Linked DNA regions of Homo sapiens. The protein of the gene in region 1 interacts with the protein of each later gene in a pairwise test. Each region holds a gene or a part of one and is shown in the gene's direction. Other genes may lie near its edges. The genes, in order: TFCP2, PPP3R2, RXRB, NPEPL1, IRAK1BP1, ESR2 and PLCB1.

Region 1 (4,264 bases):
TTTTTGTAGAGGCGGGGTTTTGCCGTGTTCCCCTGGCTGGTCTCAAACTCCTGAGCTCAAGCAATCCTTCTGACTCGCCTTCCTAAAGTGCTGGGATTACAGATGTGAGCCACCGTGCCTGGTCATATTTGTTTTTGTCTACATCATAAGGGATGTTGAATCTTGGAAAATTTTAAGGAAGGAAGTGAAATCAGGGGTTGATGACTTGTGGAAAAATAATTGATCTTTCATTTTTTCAAGCATATTATCTAAAGGGTGTTTAGAAATTGGAAGGAGTAAGATGATCAGATCAAGAGGTAGTTGAATACCTTTCTCTAAGAAGAACAGAGAAAGGACTTAGGCTAGTTAGGAGAAGGTAATGAGAGAAATAAGATGATCTAGTTTACTGTGTTGGCATTTTTTAGTAAAAAGTATATCTTGAACCTGACCCATTAGACGGTGGCTTTTATATTTTGACTATTTCTAACTTTTACACCAAAGGCCACAAACTCAAATGACTATAGAGTACATACAGGTAATGTAAGTGAATGGCAGTCAAGACTGGGGTATAGTGAAGAATATATGCATCATGTAAGAAGAACGGCTGATTGTTTTCATGTGAGAATGCAGGCCTAAGATTGCTAGATCTGAGTCTTCAGGAAAAGCCAAAAGTTCAGAGGTTTATATGATGTCTCATATTGGAACTAATTCCACTTAAGGAAAAAAAAAACCCTACTACTGGGGAACTAATAAAACATAGCAAATTAATTGCATTTGGCCAATGAGCTTCCAATTTTCATCTGCTCTATACGATTAATGTAGAAACACAATTTCTCCCTTCTTTTTATTGTGCTTACCATAAAGAATGTAAGACTAATTAGCCTTTTTCCTCCCCTTAGGATGGTGCGTCCAAGGTTAACCATTTATGTTTGTCAGGAATCACTGCAGTTGAGGGAGCAGCAACAACAGCAGCAGCAACAGCAGCAGAAGCATGAGGATGGAGACTCAAATGGTACTTTCTTCGGTAGGTTGTTCTGGACACACTAGGACAGATATGAAGAAAGGTGAAGAGATAACTTATGGGCATGTGTGATGGGAAACTATCAAACAGCAGATTTAGTATTTGCTAGAAGTAACAATAATCACTAGCATTTATTAAGTTCCTAATACATGGCAGGTGCCATTCTTTTTTTTTTTTTTTGAGACAGAGTCTCACTCAGTTACCCAGGCTGAAGTACAGTGGCACAATCATGACTCATTGCAGCCTTGACCACCTGGGCTCAAGTGATTCTCTCCCCTCAGCCTACCGAGTAGCTAGAACTAAAGCTACTCATTTGCCTAATTGTTTTATTTATTGTAGAGATGGGATCTCCCTATGTTGCCCAGGCTGGTCTTGAACTCCTGGGCTCAAGCGATCTCCCTGCCTCAGCCTCCCAAATTGCTGGGACTATAGGTGTAAACCACTACACCCAGCCAGGTACTATTCTTAACACTTTTTATATGCTTTAATATTTACAACTAATATCTCCTCTTTGCGGAGGATTTTACTGTTATCTCCGGTATTTATGCAAGAAAAATCAGGCCTAGGAATGTTAAATAACTTGCCCTAGGTCACACAGCTGCAAGTGGTTGAGCCAGGATTTGAACTTAGGCAGTGTGATTTCTGAGTCCTTCAGAAAAGTGGGCATTCCTAGTGATCAAGTTACCTGTAAGAGTGGACAAACTTTGTACTGACTGCTGTTGCTCTCTCCCTTTTGCAGTTTACCATGCTATCTATCTAGAAGAACTAACAGCTGTTGAATTGACAGAAAAAATTGCTCAGCTTTTCAGCATTTCCCCTTGCCAGATCAGCCAGATTTACAAGCAGGGGCCAACAGGAATTCATGTGCTCATCAGTGATGAGGTAGATTTTTCAGTACAGTTGAATTACCAGATGATGATTAATTTGTCAGCGCATGGAGCAAGAGCAGTTCTCCTGGGGCAGAGTGTTCTGTTTTCTAGATCAGAGGGTTTCATACTTTTTTGCTTGCTTTCCTCCTAATTTTTTTTTTTTTTGAAACAGTCTCTCTCTGTTGCCCAGGCCGGAGTGCAGTGGCCCAATCTCAGGTCACTGCGACCTCCTCCTCCTGGATTCAAGTGATTCTCCTGTCTCAGCTTCCCGAATAGTGGGAATTACAGGCGTGCGCCACCACGCCTGGCTAATTTTTGTATTTTTAGTAGAGATGGGGTTTTGCCATGTTGGCCAGGTTGGTCTCAAACTCCTGGCCTCAAGTGATCCACCCGCCTCGGCCTCCCAAAGTGGTGGGATTCCAGATGTGAGCCACTGCGCCTGGTCCTAAAATATTTTAAAAACCACATATTCCCATGCACATTTTTAGGTTGACTTAAAATTTTTTGTTAAAGTTTAAATAGTTGTAAAAGATGTCATTTCTGGGCATATATAATGACATTTTTAAGTGAAATGGTTACATCATTATTCTAATTGCATCCCATGTAACCTTAATACAAAAATGATTTAATACCACCACCATCCATTAAAAAAAAATACATGATTGTGCTTTTCTTTAACAGTTAGAATTCTTATACTATTCCTCTGTTTCCTTGAACTCTTATTTTCATTTACTTCCCCCGGTGAATTTTATCTTACTGTAACTTTTTTTTTTTGAGACAGAGTCTCACTCTGTCGCCCAGGCTGTTGTGCGGTGGTGTGATCTCGGCTCACTGCAACCCCGCCTCCTAGGTTCAAGCAATTCTCCTGCCTCAGCCTCCCAAGTAGCTGGTATTACAGGCACCCACCACCATGCCTGGCTAATTTTTGTATTTTTAGTAGAGGCTGGGTTTCACCATGTGGCCAGTCTGGTCTCGAACTCCTGGCCTCAAGTGATCAACCCGCCTCAGCCTCCCGAAGTGCTGGGATTACAGATGTGAACCACCACGCCTGGCCATCTTACCATAACATATTTTTATGCACAAACATCTTTTATTGATTATCCTACTATATTTGTTTGAAATAAAGTTTTTAAATAAAAATTTAAAAATTATTATAATGGAATTATCATAATTATACAATTGATTAAAATAATGTAAATATGCTACATGTTTTAATAAGTAATTATTAAAGATTAAGAAGGCTGCCCAGGCGCAATGGCTCATGCCTGTAAACCCAGCACTTTGGGAGGCTGAGACGGGTGGATCACAAGGTCAGAAGTTCAAGACCATCGTGTCCAAGATGGTGAAACCCCATCTCTACTAAAAATACAAAAATTAGCTGGGCATGATGGCAGGTGCCTATAATCCCAGCTACTTGGGAGGCTGAGGCAGAGAACTGCTTGAACCCGAGAGGCAGAGGTTGCGGTGAGCCAAGATTGCGCCACCGCACTCCAGCCTAGGCGACAGAGCGAGACTTCATCCAAAAAAAGAAAAAAAGAAGGCCAGGCACAGTGGCTCACACCTGTAATCCCAGCACTTTGGGAGGCCGAGGCAAGCAGATCACCTGAGGTCAGGAGTTTGACCAACATAGAGAAACCCTGTCTCTACTAAAATACAAAATTAGCCGGGTGTGGTGGCACGTGCCTATAATCCCACCTACTCAGGAGGCTGAGGCAGGAGAATCCCTTGAACCCAGGAGGCGGAGGTTGCGTGAGCCGAGATGGGGGCATTGCGCTCCAGCCTGGGCAACAAGAGCAAAACTCTGTCTCAGAAAAAAAAAAAAAAATTAAGAAAAAATTATTACAGGTATATCTATGAATGAGTTCGATGAAATTGTTTCGTTCCCTACCTGTACCCTTGCACATAATTATTTCCTTTGTAGCTGAATACTGCCTATTGATTGCTAGAATGACACAGGATTTCAGCATCAATTCCATTCTGTTTTTTTCCTCTAGATATAAATGCTGAGGGACTTGATTCCCATAAATTGATAGGAATGGATGGAATTTTGTAATGACAATGTCATTAGATTATACTTCAGAATTATATACCAGAAATTACATAGTGATATTACCAAAAAATCATTTTGAATCCTCTGTCTTACGACAATTTGTGATTAGGTTACTCTTTAATTCTGGTGAAAGGAAAGAGTTAGAAACCATGTGGCTCATAAAAGGGTCTATTGCTCAGTTATTAGCGTTCACCTTCGCCATTCCACTTTGCCACCTGAAGCTTTCACATCATGGGCCACCTTATTAGGATCCTGGGAGGGTGAAACTCATGCCTTTATCTTGGGAGAAGGGAGTTTATCCCTGGGAGAAGGGAGTTTGAGAAGGGAAAGTGGGGAAGGAAAATT
Region 2 (4,191 bases), on another chromosome or scaffold:
GAAACAAAAAAACATTCCAATATAACAGTCTAATTGGGAAAGGGGGTTTCATTTGTGTAATGCCCATAATCAGCTTTAAAACATATCCATGGATTATCATTTGTTTATAGAGGAAAGTAAAATGGCCAGACTTAATGATAAGGTGATCAGTGGCTTAGTTTTGCTAGTTCCAGCATGGTTATCTTTAGACTGATATTTTGGCTGAACTATAGAACACAGAACTTGCCAACATTTTTTAAAGCGAAGGAGTGTTTGCATCTTTCAGTTTGATGTAGTGGCCTGAGGTTCCCCCAAGTCCCTTTGAACTGTTTGCTCTTGAACCACATTTGTTTCTTATGCATTTGGAGTAATTGATGCGCTCCGAAAGGAAGAAGGAATAAGAGGGAGCATGTGAGATTAGTCTTCAACAGAAAGAACAAATCTAGTTGAAACAAAAGGAGAAAAGTGAGATCATCCAGAGGCGACTGTCACTCTCAACACACACAAAAGGCTTCTTTGGGCACATTGCAGACCTTCCCCCAAGGTATTCTGCAGAATAGCCGCCAGGCACCAACAACAAAGATGTGACTCGGGCATGAGATGATGGATAAGAGGGAACAGAGTAACAGAGGTTGTGTTCTTGAGACCTGTGTCATCTTGAAAAACGCCCTGAATTCAGCATTGTTTATATTCCTCGGGAATATGTTAGTGCCTGTAGGTGATCCATGTAAGAAATTCTGCGCGGTATCTGCCTGGTCTCTTACAAACACTCTGAATCCTACGTCCTGAAAAAGGTACAGAAGGATGTCAATCCCGGCTTCCCCTCCCAGGGAATCGTGGAAAACATACTATATCAATGCCTTGATGTGTCACCTTGTTTCATCCTTACACTAGGTCTGTAAAGCAAGTATACAGTGTCCTTGGTTGCAGTTCAGTCATTCGGCGTATATTTATTAAGCACATATTGCCTGTGAAGCACTGTGCTTCTGGGATACTGCAGCGAATAACACAGGTGCGATCCCTTCTCCTTTGGGGTTTACTTTCTCAGAGAAAAAAAAAAAAGAAATAAGTAGATAAAATAATTGCCAGGGAAATTGGGGTTATCATGGAAAGGTACAAGGAGTTTGAGAGAAGGAAAAAGAGAAGGGGCAGCCCAGCTTTCCACCTCTGCCTCTCCCGGGCACCCCCAGGCTCCATTCTCTCCTCCCTATACTCCTGCCCAGACAGCACCCACCTCCCCTTCCGCCCCCTTTTCCCTCCTTCTTTCCCTCCTCTCTCCGCTCCCTCTCTGACCTGCCGCCCCTCCCTCCGCTCCCCTGCCCTTTTGCTCGACCAGGGCCCCCGGGAGCCCTCTACCCCCACCCCATGGCCCAACCGTCCGGGCACGAGCCCCGCCCGAGCTCACCGCCCCTGCTCCCCTCTCCGACCCTTTGAGCCGTGGCCGTTGCCAGATGTCCACAATGGGAAACGAGGCCAGTTACCCGGCGGAGATGTGCTCCCACTTTGACAATGATGAAATTAAAAGGCTGGGCAGGAGGTTTAAGAAGTTGGACTTGGACAAATCAGGGTCTCTGAGCGTGGAGGAGTTCATGTCCCTGCCGGAGCTGCGCCACAACCCGTTGGTGCGGCGAGTGATCGACGTCTTCGACACCGACGGTGATGGAGAAGTGGACTTCAAGGAATTCATCCTGGGGACCTCCCAGTTCAGCGTCAAGGGCGACGAGGAGCAGAAGTTGAGGTTTGCGTTCAGCATTTACGACATGGATAAAGATGGCTACATTTCCAACGGGGAGCTCTTCCAGGTGCTGAAGATGATGGTGGGCAACAACCTGACGGACTGGCAGCTCCAGCAGCTGGTCGACAAAACCATCATCATCCTGGACAAGGATGGCGATGGGAAGATATCCTTTGAGGAATTCAGTGCTGTGGTCAGAGACCTGGAGATCCACAAGAAGCTGGTCCTCATCGTATGAGCCTTTTTCTTACAAGCACCACCCAACAACTTCTGCTTTCTTCCCTATCTCTTTCAAGATTTGCTCAAGACGTCCAACTGTCTCTCTGACTTATCTGGAAGTATTTCTTTTTGTGAAGCCATATGTCCTAACAGGAGCTTCATCACCAACTCAGTGCTATTAATTCTCCTTCTCTGAATGACTCAGGGTACCCTATAGGGGGAAGAGCAAGTCAAATGAGCATAGTGGGGAAAGAAAAGGAAATGGCTTTTATAAACATCTTTTACTTTGTTTTGATTCAAAGACCAAACTAGAACTTTAAAAGTTCAAAAATAAGAAAGTATACATTTTTGCTGTTATTTCTCATCATTTTGTATATGGGAGGAAATTTATAATTTGCATGGGTGTTAGGTGAACTGTTTTCATTTGCTTGTGTTCAGATATCTTGCCAGATTGTTAACTTCCTATTGTAGCAACAGGGACAAATATATTTGTCTTTGCTGGGCATCTCGTAATCACTTTTCTTAGGGGACAGAATCCCATCTTTTCCTTCGGCAGATTGCAGCCCCATTCCCCACAATGCATCCAGAAATCGCTGTGCATGTTTGAGGGGTAGGAGTTCATTTGGCCTCCTCCTGACTTGTTGCTCCAGCTCCTGAACAGAAACTAGCTTCAGGGCTCTTATAGGAAATGCTAAGCCTGGACTAAGTGCCCAGCTCAGCCATCATCCTCATTAGCAGTGGGTTTCCAGGGTTGGCAGCCCACACCAGCATTAATTTCAATGAAGGGGACCTCCAGCTAAATAGGGCAAGCAAAGTGTTCTCCCAGAAAGTGCTCTCACCTCCGACACTGGTCCCTACCCCCAGGTGGAGACAATGAGACATTTAGTTAGTTGTCCTACGGAGGAGAGGCAGTAGAGTCAGGCTGCAGTGGAATCTCCCTAGGATGCCAAAGTGGCATTATGTCTGTTGCTCACAGATGCAGAGACTGACAATTGTGTCTCCACAGCAGAGGTGGATGCTAGCTACACCAGCTATGCTGATTTTGAAAATCAGATCTGAGGCCTAGAAGAGAAACTGAGAGCTCTCTCATTCCAGGAAGCCTTTTCCCTAGTGGAACATTCAGTGCAGAAGTCCTCACACACTAACAGATCTCCACCATTGGGTGAGCCGGAGCCTGTGGTTCCAGGGGAGATCCAGAATGCATGTGTCTCTTCCCACGCATTTATGTCATGTTGGTAGCTTTAGATCAGCCATGGTGAGAAAAGAACAAAAGCTTTTAGTTGTTTTTGTTTTGTTTTGGAGAATTTGTTTACCAGTAAATACATCACTGCCTGTACCCCAAATGTTACCAGCTCCCTGAGGTGTCCCACATACTATTGTGAGTTCTCAGAGCATGAACTGTCCTCAGAAGAGCAGGGCTAGGACTTGTCCCAGCATCTGTGCCTCCATACCAATCCTCTTTCTCACAGAGAACCACTTCCCATATAAGATGCTTAAGGCTCTCAAAACAGCAGAACAATGAAACATACTCTCCCTACACTTGCTTAGCCAAGAGATACCACTCAGGTAACTTTTTTCAGGACATGGAAGATCTGTTTCAAGGAGATTTACTGCTATTTTATTTGGAAGAAGCTGGCAACTGGTCTTGACCAAAATAGAAAAAAAAAAAAAAAGTCCACAAATTTAATCACTTGTAGGGAACCCATCTATCAAGGTACCCTACCATATACTTTTGTATTTAATAGATTACTTAGAAACCACAAAAATAGGAATCCTTACCCCTTCAATTCCTGTTCAACCCTAAAAACTGTGATAAACGCTCCCAACCCTGTGGTGATCAGGGTTATGTAATGTTCAAAGATTCAGACACACCTGGGTTTGGATTCAGTTGCAACTGGGTTGTTATCACACTCACTTCTTTTTAGCTGTGTGAGCATGAATAATTTACTTAGCCTCTCTGTGTCTTTCCACCTAATTAAAGAGGATCCACCCCAGGGTTATTTTGAGGATTCAAAAAGGCATGCAACACACCTGGAGCACAATTCCACTTTCATTCAACTAATTCCCTTCCCTTCCCCCTTCTTCCCCTTCTACAAGATCAATATGTAAAGGAGACATGAGGCTTACTGGTTGCTTTTGAACACTTACTTAGTTCTTAGCTACACCCACTCTAAAATTAACTGGACATTAGTGTACAGCCCATGTCCAAGCCCAGAGAGAAAACAATGGGAACAATTTCAAGGTCCTCACCACTCCTT
Region 3 (3,063 bases), on another chromosome or scaffold:
GCTGAGATGTAGGACGCGATTGGGGGGAAGGTCAGAGGGAAAAGGAAGCAGCGTGTAGGGTTTCTGAACAGTGAGGAGACTGGGACTGGATCATCACTCAGCTCCTGGTTCCCTATCTCTGTATTTGGCAAACAGGGAGGACTTTAAGTTTTGCTAGGGGGAGATTGGAAACAGACTAAATGGTGAAGGTGTCTCCATGCAACCTTCTTATTGCTCCTCCCCTTTCCCTGTAGGCAAACACTACGGGGTTTACAGCTGTGAGGGTTGCAAGGGCTTCTTCAAACGCACCATCCGCAAAGACCTTACATACTCTTGCCGGGACAACAAAGACTGCACAGTGGACAAGCGCCAGCGGAACCGCTGTCAGTACTGCCGCTATCAGAAGTGCCTGGCCACTGGCATGAAGAGGGAGGGTAAGGACCCGCCCTGCCCAGGCGTCTTAGACCACATGCCCTTCTCCCTTATCCCACTCAGACTGTGTACCTCTCTGGAAGGGTGGACTGCTCTCTCTCCTCTAGAGGGCGATATTTGATTTCTCTCTCCCTTCGCAGCTCTCCTCCCTGTTACCCTGTTCTGGCCCTTGAGTTTCCTTCTTAATGGTTAGGCCTCTGTGGCCTGCACATATGACCCCTCCCTAGACTGATCCTAGGATAGGATAACTTTTCCTTAGCCATGATGGGCTGTCTCCCCATTTCTAACCTGAGTGGTTCCTCCTCTGATTCCATGGACCTTCTCTGGTCTCTGTCTCCTGTTATCTGTGATCTTTCCTCTAACTCCTGGGACTGGGCACTCTTAAGCTTACAGACTTTACTGAAGACCTCAGGGCTTCCCTTCCTTCTTCTGTGTCTCCATCTTATCTTCTTAAGTCAGATTCCTAGGATTCTGAGAGACACTTTAGAGCATATCTTGGTCAAAACACCCACTTTAGAGAAGATGAGCCTGAGGCTTGGCTTTCCCAAGGTCATGCAACAAAGGAGTGGCAGGCAGGTTTGGGATCAGAACCCACATCTTCAAAGACCTAGGCCAGTGCTCCTTTCACTGCCTATTTGTTGAGTCAGAAGAGCACAAGATTTGCACTCAGACACACTTAGAGTCAGTTGTATGACCTGCCATGTATTATATGAATTTAAGCAAACTAATCTCTTTGAACCCCGAGTTCTTCATCTTAAAAATGAGAATAAATGCTTCCAGCATCATTATGATAATTGAGTGAATGGTAAAATGTGCTTAGCATGTTTCTTGGCATATTTTATTTAAAAAAATTTTTTTTTTCAATCAGCTTTCTCAGGTTGAATCTTGGCATGTTTTTTTTAACCATGTAGTAGGCTCTCCATTTAAATTCCTCCCTAATTCTTTTACCTACCTCACCCTTCCCGACTGACTTACCTGCCCTTTTATAACCCTTCCTTCAGGGCTGCCCCCAGTCCACCCTTTCTAGTGACTTCCCCAATTCCTATAAATATCTCCCAAGGGCCATGAGATCCTGATGAGGCCGTAAGGATATTTGTGGAACCCCTTCATGGCTGGCTGCTGACTTTCCATTTTTTCTCTCCCCCTTCCCCCTGCAGCGGTACAGGAGGAGCGTCAGCGGGGAAAGGACAAGGATGGGGATGGGGAGGGGGCTGGGGGAGCCCCCGAGGAGATGCCTGTGGACAGGATCCTGGAGGCAGAGCTTGCTGTGGAACAGAAGAGTGACCAGGGCGTTGAGGGTCCTGGGGGAACCGGGGGTAGCGGCAGCAGCGTGAGTGTTGGGGTCAATCCACTCTCCTTCGTGATGGGGGTTGGGGGAGGCAGTCTAGGTCTGTTCTACATCCCCTCCCCCTCCTTTCCCCTCATAACCTTCCTAACACTACTTGGGACTGGAGGTGCTGCCAAACAAGGTCTTTCAAACATCTGAGGTGGATGTGATAGCTCCTTCTGTCTCCACTCCCCAAACAACCCACTGGCAGAACCATAGGCATGTCCCAAATAAATAATTGTTTGCACTAATGCCAGAAGAGAAGACTCACTTACAGGGATTGGTTTGGATGGGGCTCACAGGAAGACTATATGTAAGGAGGGGGTGTCAAAAGCCTCTTACAAGGGGGCTCCCAGCATATCTCAAAATCTTCCATAACTCTTACCCCCGTCCCCTGCAGCCAAATGACCCTGTGACTAACATCTGTCAGGCAGCTGACAAACAGCTATTCACGCTTGTTGAGTGGGCGAAGAGGATCCCACACTTTTCCTCCTTGCCTCTGGATGATCAGGTCATATTGCTGCGGGCAGGTCAGTGACCTTGGATCCCTTTGACTTCTTGACATTTGACCCCTCTTTGACTTCCCGATCTTTAGTGACCCCAGTGGCCTTACCTTGCGTACCCAGGGAGCCAAACTTGCTGACCTCGCCACCTCTTTTCTCCTTCTCTTCCACTGATGTGCTTTGAATCCCTTGGCCTGATTTCTGGCTCCTGACCCTTGCTGCCCCACCCAGGCTGGAATGAACTCCTCATTGCCTCCTTCTCACACCGATCCATTGATGTTCGAGATGGCATCCTCCTTGCCACAGGTCTTCACGTGCACCGCAACTCAGCCCATTCAGCAGGAGTAGGAGCCATCTTTGATCGGTCAGTGGCCCTCGGCTAGGCTGGCATGTAGATAGAGGGGGTGGGGCTATAGGCTGGTCCGTGTCCAAGGCTGGCTGAGCTGTGACCTTTGAGTGACCTGCAGGTCCCTCTCCAGGGTGCTGACAGAGCTAGTGTCCAAAATGCGTGACATGAGGATGGACAAGACAGAGCTTGGCTGCCTGAGGGCAATCATTCTGTTTAATCCAGGTAAGAGGAGGATTACCTTTGTCTCTCAAGGCCAAGGCAACCTTGGAGCCTCCTCTTCTCCGAGACTCCTAAGTTACCCAGCTATCCCCCTCAGTAAGACCCTCAACCTGGAAATCTCCCAACTGGCCGAGGAAAAACCCACATCCACGGATCCATCCCACAAACCCAGTGGGCCCTGCTTCCCTTGCCAGGCCTCTGGTAAAGGGCAAGCAAGTGCAGCCCAAAAGGGGCATCCTGTGGCTCACATCTGC
Region 4 (4,274 bases), on another chromosome or scaffold:
CCCTGGTGTCACCCATTCTCCAGTTTGGTTTGCGGTAGGCCCCACCACTTGCTGCTGCCTTCCTGACACTGAGCCCTAGTGTCAGCTGCTGTTCAGGGTGGCGCTGGTGCAGCTCGCCGCGCTCTCTAGCACGCCTAGTTTATTTCATACCTGGAGAGGATGAGCAGTTCCCATCCCTCCTCTAAACCACAAAACTGTTTAGAACTAAGCAGAAAATGACACTAATCATAAAAAGGGTTTTTTGTTTTTTTTTAATAGAAAAAACATGCCTCCCTATGGGTCTCTTGGGGTAATAGATGGTGGAATGAATGTTTGTTTCTGGCTTTGGGTCTTAGCATCTACACGTTTGACAATGGTTTCATTTAAATTGATCTTCTTTACTAATGTATGTTCAGTAGGCAGAGTTGCCAGCTGTCTTCACTCATAGTTGGTCCAAGAATACTATCTGTTAACTTTGATTTTGAAGAGCTCCAATCTCGTGAGGCAACAGATACACAGATACTTAGGAAAAGTCTTTAATACGGTATCATTTGGCAGAGATTCTTAAAAATCCCATTTCACAGTAAATTCCAGCAATCACAACACCCACTGTGTGTTCAGTTCTTCAGGGTGGATTCTTGTGGCTTTCAGATGTCTGCAGAACAAAAGCATTTTGGACACAGTAACTCCAAGTGTTCACATGGAATGAGGGAAGTGAAGGAACGCAGGTTCCGCGTCTTCGTTTTGACCATCCCGCACTCTCGTGTTTTATTTTGGGTCCTCTGTTTCGACACCGGGAGGTAGGAAATCATGGGCCCTGGAGGCCCCGACTGTGCCCAGAGCCAGCCCACAGGATCTGACTGTCAGAGCGATTCTCAGAAGGAATGTGGGTAGTAGATTTTGTGTCGGGTCATTGCTAACGTCCATGTAATGTTACTTTCAGGATAAGTAACAACGATATGCGAATTTGAAGCTTTTGTTTGTGTGATTAAAACGCAACCGTAGCCACAGCAATTTTTTAAACTTCAATCAACAACAGATTTTCGGAGGAGGAATATGTTATTGCTGACTTTGTTCAGAGATACCGGCACACGGTGGTAATAAGCAAACTGACTTCTAGTCGGTTATGATTCCTAAATTCGCCACAGATAGTGCACCCCCTACTGCCTGCACCTGGTACTGGCTGCTCCCACCCTCGCACGCACCCTCAATACCCACGGTCACCCTGGAAGCCGCTACATTCTGGCTGGTAGAGTCGTGGACCCTCTTCTCCTTGGATCAGATGCTTGTTTTTGATGTCGGCTTGTTGTGGACCAATGTGAGAAGATGAGCTTCCTGGGAATTCATTCGTTTGCTTGTGGCACTAACTCTAGTCACTTAGGGAAAATATCGTTGCACCTGACTTCATCTCATGTGGCTGTGGGTAGACCTGTGCAGTTAGTCAGCTCCCGGCCTGGAAATTAACACAAAGGAAAAACCTGACCACACAGGCCTTCCCTAGAGGCCACAGCTGCACAGCCTTCAGGGAAGCTGTGGTCTGAGGGTGGCTGGTAGAACTGCCAGAGAGTAGGGCATTTTCCATGGCTCCAGATCACCTTCTGAAAATGCGACTATAGCCCCTGCCTATTCCCGGGGTCCACCTGGTCTGCAGACCCCATAATACCAGGAAGAGCTGGGTGTTCTGGCACCAGTGAAACAATACCTGGTTTTTTATTTTAAACCAGCCCATCTTCCCCGCTGCAGTTGGAACCGTTCTACGTGGATTTGGGATCAACCAGCAGGCCTTTCCTGAGCTGTTACTGTGTGGAGTGGGCGCTGAGGCTCCAGCCATTGATGCAAAGACCCCAATCCTGACCTGAAGGCGCTCACAATCTCTCCCCAACGGCCTGGTGTGAAACGCAGACGCAACGCAGCAGGCATTCTCCCCAGTGGCTGCCTGTAGAGCAAATGGTGCAGAAATGGTCACTCCTCAAAAAGCAAGCCGGCTGGAGCCAGCCCAGCTCCCAGTTTTGCAAGAAAAAAAAAATCACAGCTCCATTTTCAAAGATTTCAAGGGCAGCTCAAGACCAGCCTGGACTAGCAGGCCTCAAATGCATTACTGGAGACCCCTTTACGCTCTTAACAAGTACCGACCCCAAAGAGGCTTTTTGTATAACAATGTCTATTGATATTTACTCTACTGGAAATTAAAAGTGAGAAATTTATAACATGTATAATTCATTAAAAATAACATATAAATCCATTGCATGTTATCATAAATAATTTTATGAAGATAAGCATCTTCCAAAATGAAAAAATAATTTACTGAGAGAGTAGCATTGTTGTACATTTTCACAAATCCTGTCAGTGTCTGGCTTAATAGAAGACAGCTAGGGACCTTGCGTCTGCTTCCGATGTAGTCTATGGAAATGTGTTGTTTCAGTTGAACTGTATCAAGAAAATCTGGCCTCACGCATTTTATAGTTGAAACAGGGAAAAGGATTTTAGTACCTTTTTCAGCTAACTAACTATGAACATTCTTTGCTACTACACCAAAACTCAACAAGTGGTAGCTTCTTAAAGGCTGGTTATAACATGGAATCTGAAGCCTCATGAATAGACTTTTGGGCTCTGTGGCAGTTAAATCCGCTGTTCTCTCTCACTTTGAACATGTGGTTTTTCATGGAAAAATGAATGTTCACTTGAAAAATGTTGGTTCACAGAGTTCTGCAGAAATTCAAATTTTTGACACATTACATTATATAGTATCAAAAAATCACTTAATATCACCATCCATCTCATCAGAAAACTCATTATGAGGAAGTTGTCATGGTGATAGGAGAAAGTTTTTCAAAATTCTGATTTTTGCTTAAAAGCTCAAATGTATACCATTGGCAATAAATAATGTCAGCTGTTTCTGGAAGTAAGAGGCTCAGTTTGTTCCTTTTCTGGGAAATATCTGCCAGATACCTAAATCCAATTAAATGCCATTTGTCTGTCAGTTTTTCTTTCAAGTAAAGATGGTGTCGTGGCCAGAGTGGCTCATGGAGCTCAGAACTCCCCCAGCAATCACAGCTGAGCTTCTGCTCTGACCGACCACTGCCCGTCAGCAACAGCAGGAGTACATTATGAGTCACACGGAATATGGAAAATGTATTGTACCCAAGGGTTGAGAGTTTTAAAAATTAATTTTACTGCTTCAGCAAGGAAATTCTAACGTGAAATTGGCATTGGTTCATTTTCCCAGAGGGCACGGAAACGAATACAGTGGCTCCCGGACCTCTTTGGGACTGTGGCCTGATACTCCAGCACAGGGGGTGTAAGTGTCAGCCCCGTGAAAAAGGCAGAGACCGTCTTAAATCACTGCGAAAATGGTTTCTTCTATAAAAACAGAAACAACATATGGGGGCTGGTGAAACTTTGCACAATCAATCAGTTGAGCTGTATTTGCAAGCCCAGTCCTGGCTCCACCTGCAATTGGGAAGGAGCTGGCAGCTGTGACGGGGGAGACATGGTGTACAGTGAGCAGCCGTTTCCAGGCATTGCTGTGTGACCCATTTTGCACATGGTTTGATTCCAGATCGGAGGCCCTGTTTTTCCATTTAAACAATCCTGTGCTTTCTCAAACAGATTAGCTCAGAAGAGATGGCTTATTTTCAGTAGTACAAGATGGGTCATTTTCACTCAATTATAAAAGCAGCTCAATTTACATCTAAAAATACTTTGCACTAAAATTCAAAGCTTGTGTAATAAGATAAGGGTTCAAAAATGATTCAGTAAATTTCATACCCAAACCTTTACCTCTGAGGACCTGCTGTTAATTTAAAATATGAACTTGTGAATTTGATTTGGGAACCTGTAAAATGTAAAAATGTGTAACACTGTCAACCAGCGTATAGGAAACAGTGTGGACACTGCAGGAGAAGGGTGGCCCCTCTTTAGACCCAGGTTAACCAGGAGGTGTGAACTATTAACCAGGAGGTGTGAACTAGCAGGAGGGCAGAGGTGGCCCCTTCTTCTGGCGATAGACCTGGCAGTGACATGAAGGAGCGACAGGTGTCCTCACTGCTGGTGGTGTCAGTGGGGGTGGATGTGACTGATTTTGGCGAAGAGTTCACATCAACCCTCACCATCATTCAAGGTTGTGATGAGGGGCAGAGAATGCTGAGCCTAAGTCTCGTTAGGTGGTAAAGCCCTCTAAGTGCCAGGGAGAGGAAGCTAGGCCCTGTTCTGGGGGGCGACAGGTGGCCAGGGCAGGTTTGCATTGCGGCAGCAGCCCCTCAGGCTTCCTCCCTGCCATAAGCACACTAGGAATC
Region 5 (4,274 bases), on another chromosome or scaffold:
TTGAAGGACATGTACAACTAAGAAAGCAAACAAATAAAAATGAACTGATTATTAACTCCCAGGAATTCAATGAAGACTAGAAGAAAAGAAATGCAATCATAGTACACTATATTGTTCAGCTGTAAACAATCATAATAGTACAAACACTGACTGTTGATTTAATTTTAAAAAAAGGTTCTAAGTGATGACTTTAATGGTAGGTGAATGAATGGATGTGGGAAGGAGGGTTGGATTAAAATCCTAGCTTTGTGATTCCTATACCAGTACTCTTTCCACTTTTTATGTTATTTTCATGTTATAACCTTAGTGTTTAGAGGAATTTTTTTTTTTTTTTGAGACGAAGTCTCACTCTTGTCACCCAGGCTGGAGTGCAATGGCGTGATCTTGGCTCACTGCAACCTCCGTCTCCCAGGTTCAAGCGATTCTCCTGCCTCAGCCTCCTGAGTAGCTGGGATTACAGGCTCCTGCCACCACACCTGGCTAATTTTTGTAATTTTAGTAGAACCGGGTTTTCACCATGTTGGCCGGGCTGGTCTCGAACTCCTGGCCTCAGGCGATCCGCCTGCCTCTGCCTCCCAAAGTGTTGGGATTACAGGCGTGAGCCACCGTGCCCAGCCTAGAGGAATTTTTTAATCCTGGGGTATAATAGGTATTCAATACTGTGTATCAGGAAGCAAAAGTAGTAGTATAACTACTCATATAGTTTTCTCCCCCTTCTTTCCCTCTCCTTTTCCTTGCATGCCTGCTATGTGTTAAGCATTTTCCATATATTATTCCATCCAATCTTTTTTATTTATTTTTATTGTGAAATATTTTATACATATATAGGCATGAATATATAAGACTCATTCCGTTTTCAGACATCTGATCAATAGAGAATCTTTGAACATTAAGCCAAAATTGACTCACTAGTAGCCATCTATTAGTGTACCTCTGTAAGAAGAAACAAAACAAGGTAAATACTTCTTCCTTAAAATATATACTTGAAGTTCATTTTCATATTGATGCTACTTTTTTTTTCTTTTCCAGGGTAAGAACCCTGTTTGGCCATTTCTTATGTAACAAACTCTTTCTTTAGTTAGCCAGTTTCATTCAAAACCATCTATAGCTATATTGTTCTACTTATGATTTGGCCAGTCCAAACTAGAGAAAGTTGATTATCTCCCTTATTCTAGAATATTTATTTCTAATAACACATGCAAGACTGAATTAACTTTTTGGCATTTGCATCATATTGTTCCCTCAATTCAGCTTATAGTCATAATAATTATAAACAATAAAAGTGTCTTTCTCATGTGCTACCTTTAAATCATATTTTTTTCATCTTATACTTTGTTACTGCTATTTCAGTATGAACTGTGGGATTTTACATTTATTTATATGAAATTTTATCTTAATTCGGTTTACCTGTATTTCTAGTCTATAAAATAGCAGAGAAGTAAAGCTCATAATAAGGAGAAAAATCAATTCCAAACCAACTCAGGAGTGACACAGATGTTAGAATTAAAAGACATAGTCATTAAAAGTTATTTTGGCTGTAGTTCACATGCTCAAAAGTTAAGGAGGGATGTGCAAGATATTAAAAACAAAAAACAAATTGAATTTCCAAAGATGAAAACTACAGTGTATGAGATAATAAATACACTGAATAGGATTAACAGCAAATTAGACCTTACACAAGACGTGCTTAGTGAACCTGAAAATGTAGCAATAAAAAGTATCCATAATGAAACACAGAAAAGAAAGATGTAAAAACGAGTTAATAAAATGTAGGACAACATCAAATAGCCTATTATACATATAATTGAGGTCCCAATGCAGAGGAAAGTGGGGGACAAGAAAAATACTTGGAAAAATTATGACCCAAAAATATCCAAACTTTATGAGAATTATAAACCCATGGAGTCAAAAAGTTCAACTAACCCTAAGCACAAGAAATTGAAAAAAAAAATGCACCAGTACACATTATAATCACATTGCTCAAAACCAGTGATAAATCTTAAAACAGCCAGAGGAGGAGAAAAAAGACATATTATCTACAAAGGAACAAAGGTAAGACAACAGATTTCTTGTTGAAAGCAATGCAAGCAAGGAGACAGTTGTGCCACATCTTTAAAACTAAAAGGTGTATATATATGTGTGTATATATGTGTGTGTGTGTGTGTGTGTGTATATATATATATATATATATATATATATATATATCAACGAAGAGTTTCTATTAATATATCCAGCAAAAGTAGTGCTGAAAAACAAAGACCAATTAAAGACCTTTCCAGTAAGCTGAAATAATTCATTACCTGTAGACCTACACTATGAGAAATTTAAATGACATCATTTAAGCAGAAAAGAATGATGCCAGAAAGAAATAGGAATTTATACAAAGGACTGAAGAGTACTGAAAATGGTAACTACGTGGGTTTTTCTTAATATAAATCTCTTTAGAAATCTCTATATTTATATAAAAGATAACTGACTAGGCTGGGTGCAGTGGCTCACACCTGTAATCCCAGCACTTTGGGAGGCCGAGGTGGGTGGATCACCTGACGTCAGTTCAAAACCAGCCTGGCCAACATGGCGAAACCCTGTCTCTACTAAAAAATGCAGAAATCAGCCAGGCATGGTGGTCACGCCTGTAGTCCCAGCTACTCAGGAGGCTGAGGCAGGAGAATCGCTTGAACTCAGGAGGCGGAGGTTGCAGTGAGCTGAGATCACGTCACTGTACTCCAGCCTGGGCGACAGAGCAAGACTCTGTCTCAAAAAAAAAGATAACTGACTAAATAAATGATAATGATGAACTACAGGGATTATAACATATGTAAAAATAAATTATATAACAACAATAGCACAAAGGTCAAGAAGGGAAGAACAGAAGTACAGTGTTATAAACTTCTTATATGTGAAATGATATGCTAGCTCTTGATGGTAGATTGTAATAACTTAAATATGTATTCTGTAAATCCTAAAGCAAACACTAAAATAATGGAGTTACGGCTAATAAGTCAATGAAAGCTATGAAATAATATAATAAAAATATCAAAAAGAAAACAGAAAATGAGTAAAGGGGAAATAACAAGACCACAGGTTTAAATTTACCCATGTCAATAATCACGTTAAATGTAAATGGTCCACATACCTTCATTAAAATACAGATATTTTAAGTTAACTCCACTTACATGCTGCCTGAGAGAAGTGTACTTTAAATATGAAGACATATGTTGGTTAAAAGTAATGGGATGGAGAAAGATATGTCATGCTAACGTAAATGAAAAGAAAGCTGGAGTGGCTATAGTAATCAAAGTAGATTTCAGAGCAAAGACTATGAAAGATAAAGACAGTCATTTCATAATGATAAAAGTCAATTAATCAAGAGGACATACAGCACTAAATATTTATACATATAATAAAGCTTCAAAATACTTAAGGGAAAAATGATATAACTACAAGGAAAAATAAATAAGTCTACAACTTTTGTAGATTTCAATACCCCCCTTTTCAGTAGTTGATAAGACCATAGACAGAAAATCAGTAAGAATATAACAGATTTGAATCACACTGTCAACCAATTTGACCTACTTGACATATATAGAACACTCCAAAAACAGCAGCCTACACATTCCTTTCAAGTGCACATTGAACATTTGCCAAGGTAGACCATATTCTGTGTCATATAAAAGTATTTGGCCGGGCGCAGTGGCTCACACCTGTAATCCCAGCACTTTAGGAAGCTGAGGCGGGCAGATCACCTGAGGTCAGGAGTTCAAGACCAGCCTGGCCAACATGGTGAAACCCCGTCTCTACAAAAATACAAAAATTAGCTGGGCATGGTGGTGCACACCTGTAATCCCAGCTACTCAGCAGGCTAAGACAGGAGAATCGCTTGAACCCGGGAGGTAGAGGTTGCAGTGAGCCGAGATCGTGCCATTGCATTGCACTCCAGCCTGGGCAACTGAGCAAGACTCCATCTCAAAAAAAAAAAAAAAGTATTTGAATCATACAAAGTTCACTGACCACAGTGTAATTAAATTAAAAACCAGTAATAGAAGGGCCTCAGGAAAATCCCCCAAATATGCTGAATTTTAAAACATACTTTTCAGTAACCCATGTGTCAAAGAAGAAATTGAAAAGGAAACTAGAAAGTGTATAAGGAAGAAATCATGCCAATTCTATACAAATTTTTCCAGAAAACTGAAAAGGAAGAAATATTTCCTAGCTCATTCTTTGAGGTCAGAAGATAACCAGAAAAATACCATTACAAGCAAAGAAAATTACAG
Region 6 (4,274 bases), on another chromosome or scaffold:
CCTTTACCATTCCCTTTCCAAAAGAACCATGCCTGGCAACATCAGGAACTAGCCAGATGTGTTTTGGAGGCTGCCTGGGGATCCCTTGTTAGACTTTTCGTTCCTTTATGAACCTCTTGCCTGTGGTCCAGCATTGAGCCTCTGCTTCCTTCCAAGCCTTTCCAGGCCAGGCACTTGCTTGTTCTCTCTCTTCTCTTCTCTCTTCTTTTTTCTCTCTCCCTTTCTCTTCTCTTCCCCCTTTTTCTTGTCTCACATTCATCTCAAGGTAACTTAAAGTCCATTTGTTATTCCTCTTAAAGTTATTTTTATTTTATTTTTTTGAGATGGAGTCTCACTCTGTTGCCCAGGCTGGAGTGCAGTGGCACAGTCTTGGCTCACTGCAACCTCTGCCTCCCGGGTTCAAGCAATCTCCTGCTTCATCCTCCAAAGTAGCTGGGATTACAGGTGTGCACCACCATGTCTGGCTAATTTTTGTATTTTTAGTAGAGATAGGGTTTCACCTTGTTGGCCAAGCTGGTCTCGAACTTCTGGCCTCAGGTGATACGCCCACCTTGGCTCCCCAATGTGCTAGGATTACAGGCATGAACCATTGCGCCCAACCTGAAAGTTATTTTAAATCTAGACCTTTATCTGAAATTGCAGAGTGTGAGATGTTTGTTCTCCATTTAAATGGGAACTTCAAATGTCTGAAGGGCTGCTTAGCAATGCTGTTGGGAATGACTGATGTTTGGAAGTGGTTGAATGCCTTCACACCCATCCATGCAGCATTCGTGAACTCTAGTAACTACAGAAGACCAATGCATATCCTGCCTGTGGTTCAGACCTGTGGGTAAGATTTGATCTGGCCACTCCTTTCATTACACTTAGAGATGTAGCTCCCACCCCATGGCTATGACTGGTCTTCGGCAGTGACAAATGCTCATCAGCATCACGTGGATGGGCATAAACTCACCTACCCACTTTCAAACATTAGTCATTCCCCACAGCGTGGCTCTTTGTAGATATGATATCAGTATCAAAAGCTTTGCTGTATCAGATTTCCGGGAATATATTTACCAGGAACCCTGGAGGAAAAAGAGATTAAATTAGGCAATGTTCATGCTATTTTTTTTTCCTAGAAAGCCCTTCCTTTCCCTTTTATGCTCTGTTCAATGGATATTTTCTTTGCTCCCTAGAGAGACACTGAAAAGGAAGGTTAGTGGGAACCGTTGCGCCAGCCCTGTTACTGGTCCAGGTTCAAAGAGGGATGCTCACTTCTGCGCTGTCTGCAGCGATTACGCATCGGGATATCACTATGGAGTCTGGTCGTGTGAAGGATGTAAGGCCTTTTTTAAAAGAAGCATTCAAGGTACAAGAGAATTGTTAACTGCTTCTTTAGTTTCCTACTTTTGATTTCAAACAATTTTGCAGAGATGACTTGGCAGAAATGTCACTACTGGCCTGTTTGGCACACAAAGTATTTGATGAGCAGTTCAGAGGATCATGTGTGTTTGGAAGTGGGTTGGGTGGTGGGGTGGAATTGCAGATTTCTACCCCAGAACCCCAAGATTATACAGCCAACTCGAATGGGTCTTACCCCTCGTTCACCCACATGGGTGTTGGATAGAAGACATCGAGTTACAACCTTGTGAAGATGTCTCTTGGAAAAAATGTGCTCACAAGGAGTTGCAAAGATTGTTTCTTTCTTTTACTTAAATTTAATATATAGCATGCTTAACAGTCATGATGGTGGGCTGGCTCCTGAGGAAGAAAGAATAAACACATTTTTTGGAAATGGTCAGAAATCAGGAATTCAGCTACAGTGGACTTTGAGAATTGATCTAGACACATTTCTTCCCCTAGGCTAGGAGGGTCTCAGTTCACAATCCCCTTGTTTTCTGGGCTGTGTTTAGATTATTTCCCTAACTTTCTCTAAACGCCTTCTGGATTTTTTTTTTTAAATCAACTTGTTGATGAAAAGAATCAAACTCTGTAAAATATTTGAAGAGATTTATTCTGAGCCAAATATGAGTGACAAATGGCCTGTGACATAGCCCTCAGGAGATCTGAGAACATGTGCCCAAGGTGGTCAGGCCACAACTTGGTCTTATACATTTTAGGGAGACATAAGGCATTAATCAATGCATGTAAGATGTACATTGATTCAGCCTGAAAAGGCAGGACACCTGAAAGCAGGGGCTTCCAAGTCACAGGCAGTTCAAAGATTTTCTGATTGGCAATTGATTGAAAGAATTATTATCAGTAGGAAGCAATGATTGGGTTACAATAAGGGATTGTGGAGACCAAGGTTTTATCATGCAGATGAAGCCTCCAGGTAGCAGGCTTCAGAGAGAATAGATTGTAAATATTTCTTAGGGGTCTTAAAGGGTCTGTTCTATCAGTGATTCCAAAAGGGGAGGGAGGGTATAATGAACCATGTCTGTCTCCCTTGTTCCATCATGGCCTAAACTTATTTTTCAGGTTAACTTTGTAATGCCCTTGGCCAAGAGGAGGGACCCATTCAGATGGTTGAGGGGCCTTAGAATTTTATTTTTTGGTTTATAAACTTCAAGTTGTGCACCCCTGATTTCAAGGCTGGTCAGCTCATCTCCCTGCATGTGTCTTTGCTACACTCCTTCTCTCGTACCAGCCCTGATTTGCTGAAGTCACTTTCTTGCTTACTCTTGTTTTCTCTATTTGCCCCATAACCTGTCCCTCAACTGCTCCCTCCCAGGCAACACCCTATGTTTCCATCTGAAAGCTCCCTTCCTTTTTCTATCAAAGCCCCAATGCTTTGTTCTTTGCCAGTTAAGAAAAGCAACGTTGAGAGAATTCATAGTGTGTAAATGGCAAATAGCAATTTACTAAATTAACTCACCCATTGATAACTCTAAGAGGATGTTTTACCTTAAGCAGAGAAATACTGATAGAATCCAGGATATGGTGAGGAGTGAAATGTTGGTAGTCACCTTCCTACCTGTCCCCTGAAATTCACCCTGTATGAATGGCAGCCTCTTTGTCCTGGATTTTATAATTACTAGCTCTGCGACTTCACCTCCTAGCCTGTTTCCTCCTCTGTGAAATGGAGATACTCATAGGGATTTTCTAAAGATGAAATAAGGTTGATTATATGAAAACATATTCAGTGCTCAAATATTTTATTTGTGACAATCTTAACAGTAGATTATAAGGCCAAGTCCATTTCCTGGCTATATGATAAGAACAATATTGATTTTCTGAAATTCTGAACTGAATTCTTGATACGATGACTATTTTGTATCTTGCTGAGTTTCTAGGATTTTACCCCTTAAGAACGTTTGGACCTATTACTACTAACCATATCTTTTAAAAAGAGATCCTTCTTTTTTTTTTTTGCTTTTGGGGAAACATTGGTCTGCTTGAAACATCTTTGACCCCTGAGACTACAGCTAATAACAATTGAAAGTAAATTTCCTTTGCTTCTCTATGTTGTTTCTTCCTTCCTGCTGCATCAGACAGGAATGTCAAATTCTAAATGTGCAAAGAGGAAAGAGTTAAAGCTGTTACAGTTGTACAGTTGTAGTGCCTAAATGATCCTTTCTTTGCATGCTTCCTGTCTTTGATATAAGTGCATTACAGTAACTGAAAGTGGCCACTTATTTTTAAAATTGTCTCAAATAGGCCAGGATGGTACAGTATTGAGAAATTCCTTGCATGTAACTTTTTTTTTTTTTTTTTTTTTTTTGGAGATGGAGTCTCATTCTGTCACCCAGGCTGGAGTGCAGTGGCACAATCTCGGCTCACTGCAAGCTCTGCCTCCCAGATTCACACCATTCTCCTGCCTCAGACTCCCAAGTAGCTGGGATTACAGGAGCTGGCCACCACACCCTGCTAATTTTTTGTATTTTTAGTAGAGACAGGGTTTCGGCATGTTAGCCAGGATGGTCTCGATCTCCTGACCTTGTGATCCGCCCGCCTCGGCCTCCCAAAGTGCTGGGATTACAGGTGTGAGCCACCGCACCTGGCCCATTCTTATGTTTTTTATAATTTTAAACTTGTCTTGCTAACTTGATTTATAAGCTAATTGACCATATCTTAGTCATGTACCTGTCCCCTTCACTGTACAAATGCACTGGAAGCTGTGTTGTGCTTGCTTTTCCATTGATACTTTGTTGGCTTCTTCACACAATGAGTTGCCATCAGAGTGATAAGTGCTGTTGTTTCTCTACTGGGTTATGGAGCACAGAGGAAGGAGGACATAGGGAGAAGGACCTCATCACTTCATCTGGTCCAGATGACAGCATGGCTTATTTTTT
Region 7 (4,274 bases), on another chromosome or scaffold:
GAGTTCATGAGGAGGCCTGACAAGCATTTTGATCCATTTACTGAAGGCATCGTAGATGGGATAGTGGCAAACACTTTGTCTGTTAAGGTAGGTATACCCCATCACAAAATTGTTCCTAACAATAGTGTTGAATTTATCTACATTGCATAAAGAAGTGGCTTAGTCATTAAAAATTTAGTAACTAGGAAAGATTCTACTTTCTTCCTACATTTTTTTTCTCTAAAGATCAAATACACATTAAAAGTTTTCGTAAGGGGTCCGTGTGTTCTCATTGTTCAATTCCCATCTATGAATGCACACGGGAAGGGGAACATCACACTCTGGGGACTGTTGTGGGGTGGGGGGAGCGGGGAGGGATAGCATTAGGAGATACACCTAATGCTAAATGACGAGTTAATGGGTGCAGCACACCAGCATGGCACATGTATACATATGTAACTAACCTGCACATTGTGCGCATGTACCCTAAAACTTAAAGTATAATAATAATAATAATAATAATAATAATAATAATAATAATAAAAGTTTTGGTAGGGTCGGGCGCAGTGACTCACGCCTGTAATCCCAGCACTTTGGGAGGCCGAGGCAGGTGGATCACGAGGTCAGGAGATCGAGACCATCCTGGCTAACACGGTGAAACCCCGTCTCTACTAAAAAATACAAAAAAAAACAATTAGCCGGGCGTGGTGGCGGGCGCCTGTAGTGCCAGCTACTCAAGAGGCTGAGACAGGAGAATGGCGTGAACCTGGGAGGTGGAGCTTGCAGAGAGCCCAGATCGCGCCACTGCACTCCAGCCTGGGCGACAGAGCGAGAGAGCGAGACTCTGTCTCAAAAAAAAAAAAAAAAAAAAAAAAAGTTTTCATAGGCCACATGAATAAGATAAAGCGACTGAACTTTATTCTTAATGATAAAAATCTGACTCTAAATCAATAAAATGAGTTGGAGAGACTCATCATAAGCAAACCTCTTTTTTGGTGTAACTAACCTACTATGAAATTTACATGATAATTAGTGGCCCATATTGGAGAGATTTTCCGGTCTTTTTTTCCCCGTTTGGTTCTTAGAAAATTAGAGACAGAACATTCCCTCAATAAATTATCAAATGTTAAACAAAAGCTTTCAAATTACTTTAAATGGTTTTTGAAAATCTTCCAGAGTATTCAGAGATTTTAAAACACATATTAATGATCATTAAATAAAAGAGTTGCTTTATTAAATATATATGTATATATACATGTATGTCATAAATATATAAAAATCATAGATATATACACATACATATGTATATCTGACCCTAAACAATTCTAAATTTTTTTAGTCTTTGAAATTGATTTTATATCAGATATAATTTTTTAGCTACCAGAAAATATTTTTAATACTATGAAAGGAAAATCAATTTTTTAGAATACATTTTACATGGATTCTTCATCGTTAAAGCTTTTCAAAAATATTGTCTGTTTTCTGTTTAACTGAATAACTATAGAACTAAGAAATTTTTTTACTGGACATAAATGTAATTTTTTGATTAACCTTAAACAAAGGCATTTGAAAAACTATGTAAAAAGCTTTCTATAACAGCTTCACTAATTTCTTTCTACCCTAAGCAGTTGAGCACATTTTTACCTTAAAACTTTCGTCACTTTATATCAAGGGTTTAAAGAATAAAATTTCAGTGAAGTGTCTCATAATTATATCTTTTGAAATTACTTCAAGCCACATGTATAAAGAGTTCAAGTTGGCAGAATTAGAGTTTATTTTAGGAAAGTATTTTCAGAAAAGGCTGTTTAATTCCTGTCAGGTGTGATAAAGATAAACTCATAAGCTCCATGTACTGATAGAATGCTACTTTTAGAATCCTTGTCAATTGTTGTTATAGTTCGGTTGAATTAATAATATTTTTGCTTTGCTTGCAGATTCGTCTTGTTTTGAATGTATTTGTTTGCTTATTTCTTTTTTTGTCTTGAAAATCCTACTGTGACAGTAAGCAATTATAAAACAATGACACAGAGGCAGGAAAGTACATTGAGTTGTGAAGGGGAAATAGTTGATCCCCAGACAAGTGTAACCTGCTGCTCCTGTCCAGAATGGAGACGCTGCTCCAGAGCTGTCAGTCTCCCCTGAATGGACAGTTCTCACTGCAGTAGAGTCCTACCTTTGACATTATAGCTAGAGCCAAGATACAGATCATAACTTTCCAATTATGCCTTTGTTTTCATCTTCTGGCATAGATTTTATAATGCCAGAATGGACTTGTGAGCTCACATGATGTTCTACCGTCCTATGTTACTGACGAGAGCATTGTGGTTTTGGTGTCATGAATTTAGTTTAGGACTCTGCTTTGGTCAAACATCTTAAACATACAACATCTTCTGTGCATCTGAATTCCAAGTAGGACTTGCATAACTTAGAAGTTTCAAACATGTTTTGAAATGCTTGCTTATTTCATAGACATAGTTCTCACATAGAACCTCAAGTTAAACAAAGAGATTGTTGCTAGCAGGTCCCATGCACTCAAGCCAAATAGAACATACAGGGGAAATGAGTTGTCCCAGGGCAAATTCAGAGAGCCTTCCTGATGACTTTCTCTCTGAATTACTCAGAATTTCTGACAACATCAGCATATAGCTGACTTTGACTTTACTCAGCCTTTGATAGCTATTCTCATGCCACCATTTTGTCTGATTTCTGGCCCAGCCATAATTCTGTCCCCTTTCACAATCTTGAGCTCAGATTGTGAGCCCAGCCATAATGCTGTCCCCTTTTCACAATCTGGAGCTCAGAAAGTTCTTGACCAGCAGGCAATTTTCTTGTAACCACATAACCCAGATTCACCAGGTTTGCTCTGTCAGCACTTGCTTCCTGCTTTCCCCTTCCTGGTATACAGCAGAAGCACATCTTGTTTGCCTCCGCTAACCTTTATGACAGCTGGTGGATAGTTCAGATTTTGAAAATTTGCATAGAAACAGAGGCAGACATGGAAGACATTTATAAATACGTAATATTAAAAATCTCTTTTAAGTCTATAATATCCATTAGTTCTGTAGCTAGACAAAGATGGTGACACCTTGTGAGATTAGGGGTAATGATAAACTTATCTTGATGGTTTAAAGTGAATACTTGTTCATTTATTCCTCCTACAATACTGTGTCTTATTAATTGACTACTTCTAACCTCACCATTTTCAATATCCTTCTACCAACCTGTGTTTGTCCATTTTCACACTGCTATAAAGAACTACCTGAAACTGAGCAATTTATAAAGAAAAGAGGTTTAATTGACTCACAGTTCTGCATGGCTGAGGAGGCCTCATGAAACTTACAATTATGGTGGAAAGTGAAGGGGAAGCAAAGCACACCTCACATGAAGGGAGAAGAGAGAGAGTGAGGGGGGAACTGCCACACACTTATTAAACCATCAGATCTTGTGAGAACTCACTATCATGAGAACAGCATGAGAGAAACCACTCCCATAATCCAATCACCCTCCCCAAATATGTGAGGATTACAATTCAACATGAGATTTGGGTGAGGACATAGAACCAAACCATATCATAACCCATTAAGTGAAAGGGAAATCATATTTCTACTCTTGCTTCTATTCCATTTTGCTTATAATTCAACATTTGCTGAAGAGCATTTGTGGCTCTTTAAAGTATTCTCTTATGTCTTTGTTATTTGCATATCAAAATTCCTTATGGATTGATTGATTTATTGATTTTCTAGATTATTTCAGGTCAGTTTCTTTCTGATAAGAAAGTTGGGACTTACGTGGAAGTAGATATGTTTGGTTTGCCTGTGGATACAAGGAGGAAGGCATTTAAGACCAAAACATCCCAAGGAAATGCTGTGAATCCTGTCTGGGAAGAAGAACCTATTGTGTTCAAAAAGGTTGGTCACATGTTCTTGATATGAGTTATAACTGCATTTTTCAGGTGTTTTACACTGAGAAAATAATGAAATGGTGAATTATTTGTTATTTAATTTGAAAATTTACACACTTATAAAGCAATTACCTTTTGAAAGCCATTCTGAAAACCCTTCAAGAATTCTGTTAATCACTGGTTTGGATTTTCAGAATTGTATTGTAAATCAATTCATTCTAGTATGCCTCAAATGGACGGCCATAAAAACATATACATTTAACTCATATCATCTGATAGTACAAATGATAAATGATACATTTTAATTATAACTCAAAGAAGTAGAGTGGAAGTAGGGAATAATATAGTGGCTGAGATAAAGAAAATTCATATTTCCTTTAAAAGGAATATTATT

What was found.
Region 2: the proteins of TFCP2 (region 1) and PPP3R2 interact in binary tests that used the Homo sapiens proteins (3 or more experiments, as listed by UniProt).
Region 3: the proteins of TFCP2 (region 1) and RXRB interact in binary tests that used the Homo sapiens proteins (3 or more experiments, as listed by UniProt).
Region 4: the proteins of TFCP2 (region 1) and NPEPL1 interact in binary tests that used the Homo sapiens proteins (3 or more experiments, as listed by UniProt).
Region 5: the proteins of TFCP2 (region 1) and IRAK1BP1 interact in binary tests that used the Homo sapiens proteins (3 or more experiments, as listed by UniProt).
Region 6: the proteins of TFCP2 (region 1) and ESR2 interact in binary tests that used the Homo sapiens proteins (3 or more experiments, as listed by UniProt).
Region 7: the proteins of TFCP2 (region 1) and PLCB1 interact in binary tests that used the Homo sapiens proteins (3 or more experiments, as listed by UniProt).

The regions. Positions count from the first base shown.
Region 1 is NC_000012.12:51,096,394-51,100,657, reverse strand, and holds part of TFCP2 (alpha-globin transcription factor CP2), read left to right. Parts: intron 1-878; coding exon 879-1,003; intron 1,004-1,739; coding exon 1,740-1,882; intron 1,883-4,264.
Region 2 is NC_000009.12:101,592,170-101,596,360, reverse strand, and holds the start of PPP3R2 (calcineurin subunit B type 2), read left to right. Parts: upstream 1-1,391; 5' UTR 1,392-1,439; coding exon 1,440-1,952; 3' UTR 1,953-4,191. UniProt on the Homo sapiens protein: Regulatory subunit of calcineurin, a calcium-dependent, calmodulin stimulated protein phosphatase. Confers calcium sensitivity.
Region 3 is NC_000006.12:33,195,112-33,198,174, reverse strand, and holds part of RXRB (retinoic acid receptor RXR-beta), read left to right. Parts: intron 1-233; coding exon 234-413; intron 414-1,568; coding exon 1,569-1,741; intron 1,742-2,138; coding exon 2,139-2,268; intron 2,269-2,472; coding exon 2,473-2,605; intron 2,606-2,708; coding exon of another isoform or gene 2,709-2,720; coding exon 2,721-2,812; intron 2,813-3,063. UniProt on the Homo sapiens protein: Receptor for retinoic acid. Retinoic acid receptors bind as heterodimers to their target response elements in response to their ligands, all-trans or 9-cis retinoic acid, and regulate gene expression in various biological processes.
Region 4 is NC_000020.11:58,702,293-58,706,566, forward strand, and holds part of NPEPL1 (probable aminopeptidase NPEPL1), read left to right. Parts: intron 1-3,205; exon of another isoform or gene 3,206-3,277; intron 3,278-4,274. UniProt on the Homo sapiens protein: Probably catalyzes the removal of unsubstituted N-terminal amino acids from various peptides.
Region 5 is NC_000006.12:78,891,145-78,895,418, forward strand, and holds part of IRAK1BP1 (interleukin-1 receptor-associated kinase 1-binding protein 1), read left to right. Parts: intron 1-4,274. UniProt on the Homo sapiens protein: Component of the IRAK1-dependent TNFRSF1A signaling pathway that leads to NF-kappa-B activation and is required for cell survival. Acts by enhancing RELA transcriptional activity.
Region 6 is NC_000014.9:64,277,055-64,281,328, reverse strand, and holds part of ESR2 (estrogen receptor beta), read left to right. Parts: intron 1-1,175; coding exon 1,176-1,348; intron 1,349-4,274.
Region 7 is NC_000020.11:8,733,306-8,737,579, forward strand, and holds part of PLCB1 (1-phosphatidylinositol 4,5-bisphosphate phosphodiesterase beta-1), read left to right. Parts: coding exon 1-87; intron 88-3,722; coding exon 3,723-3,887; intron 3,888-4,274.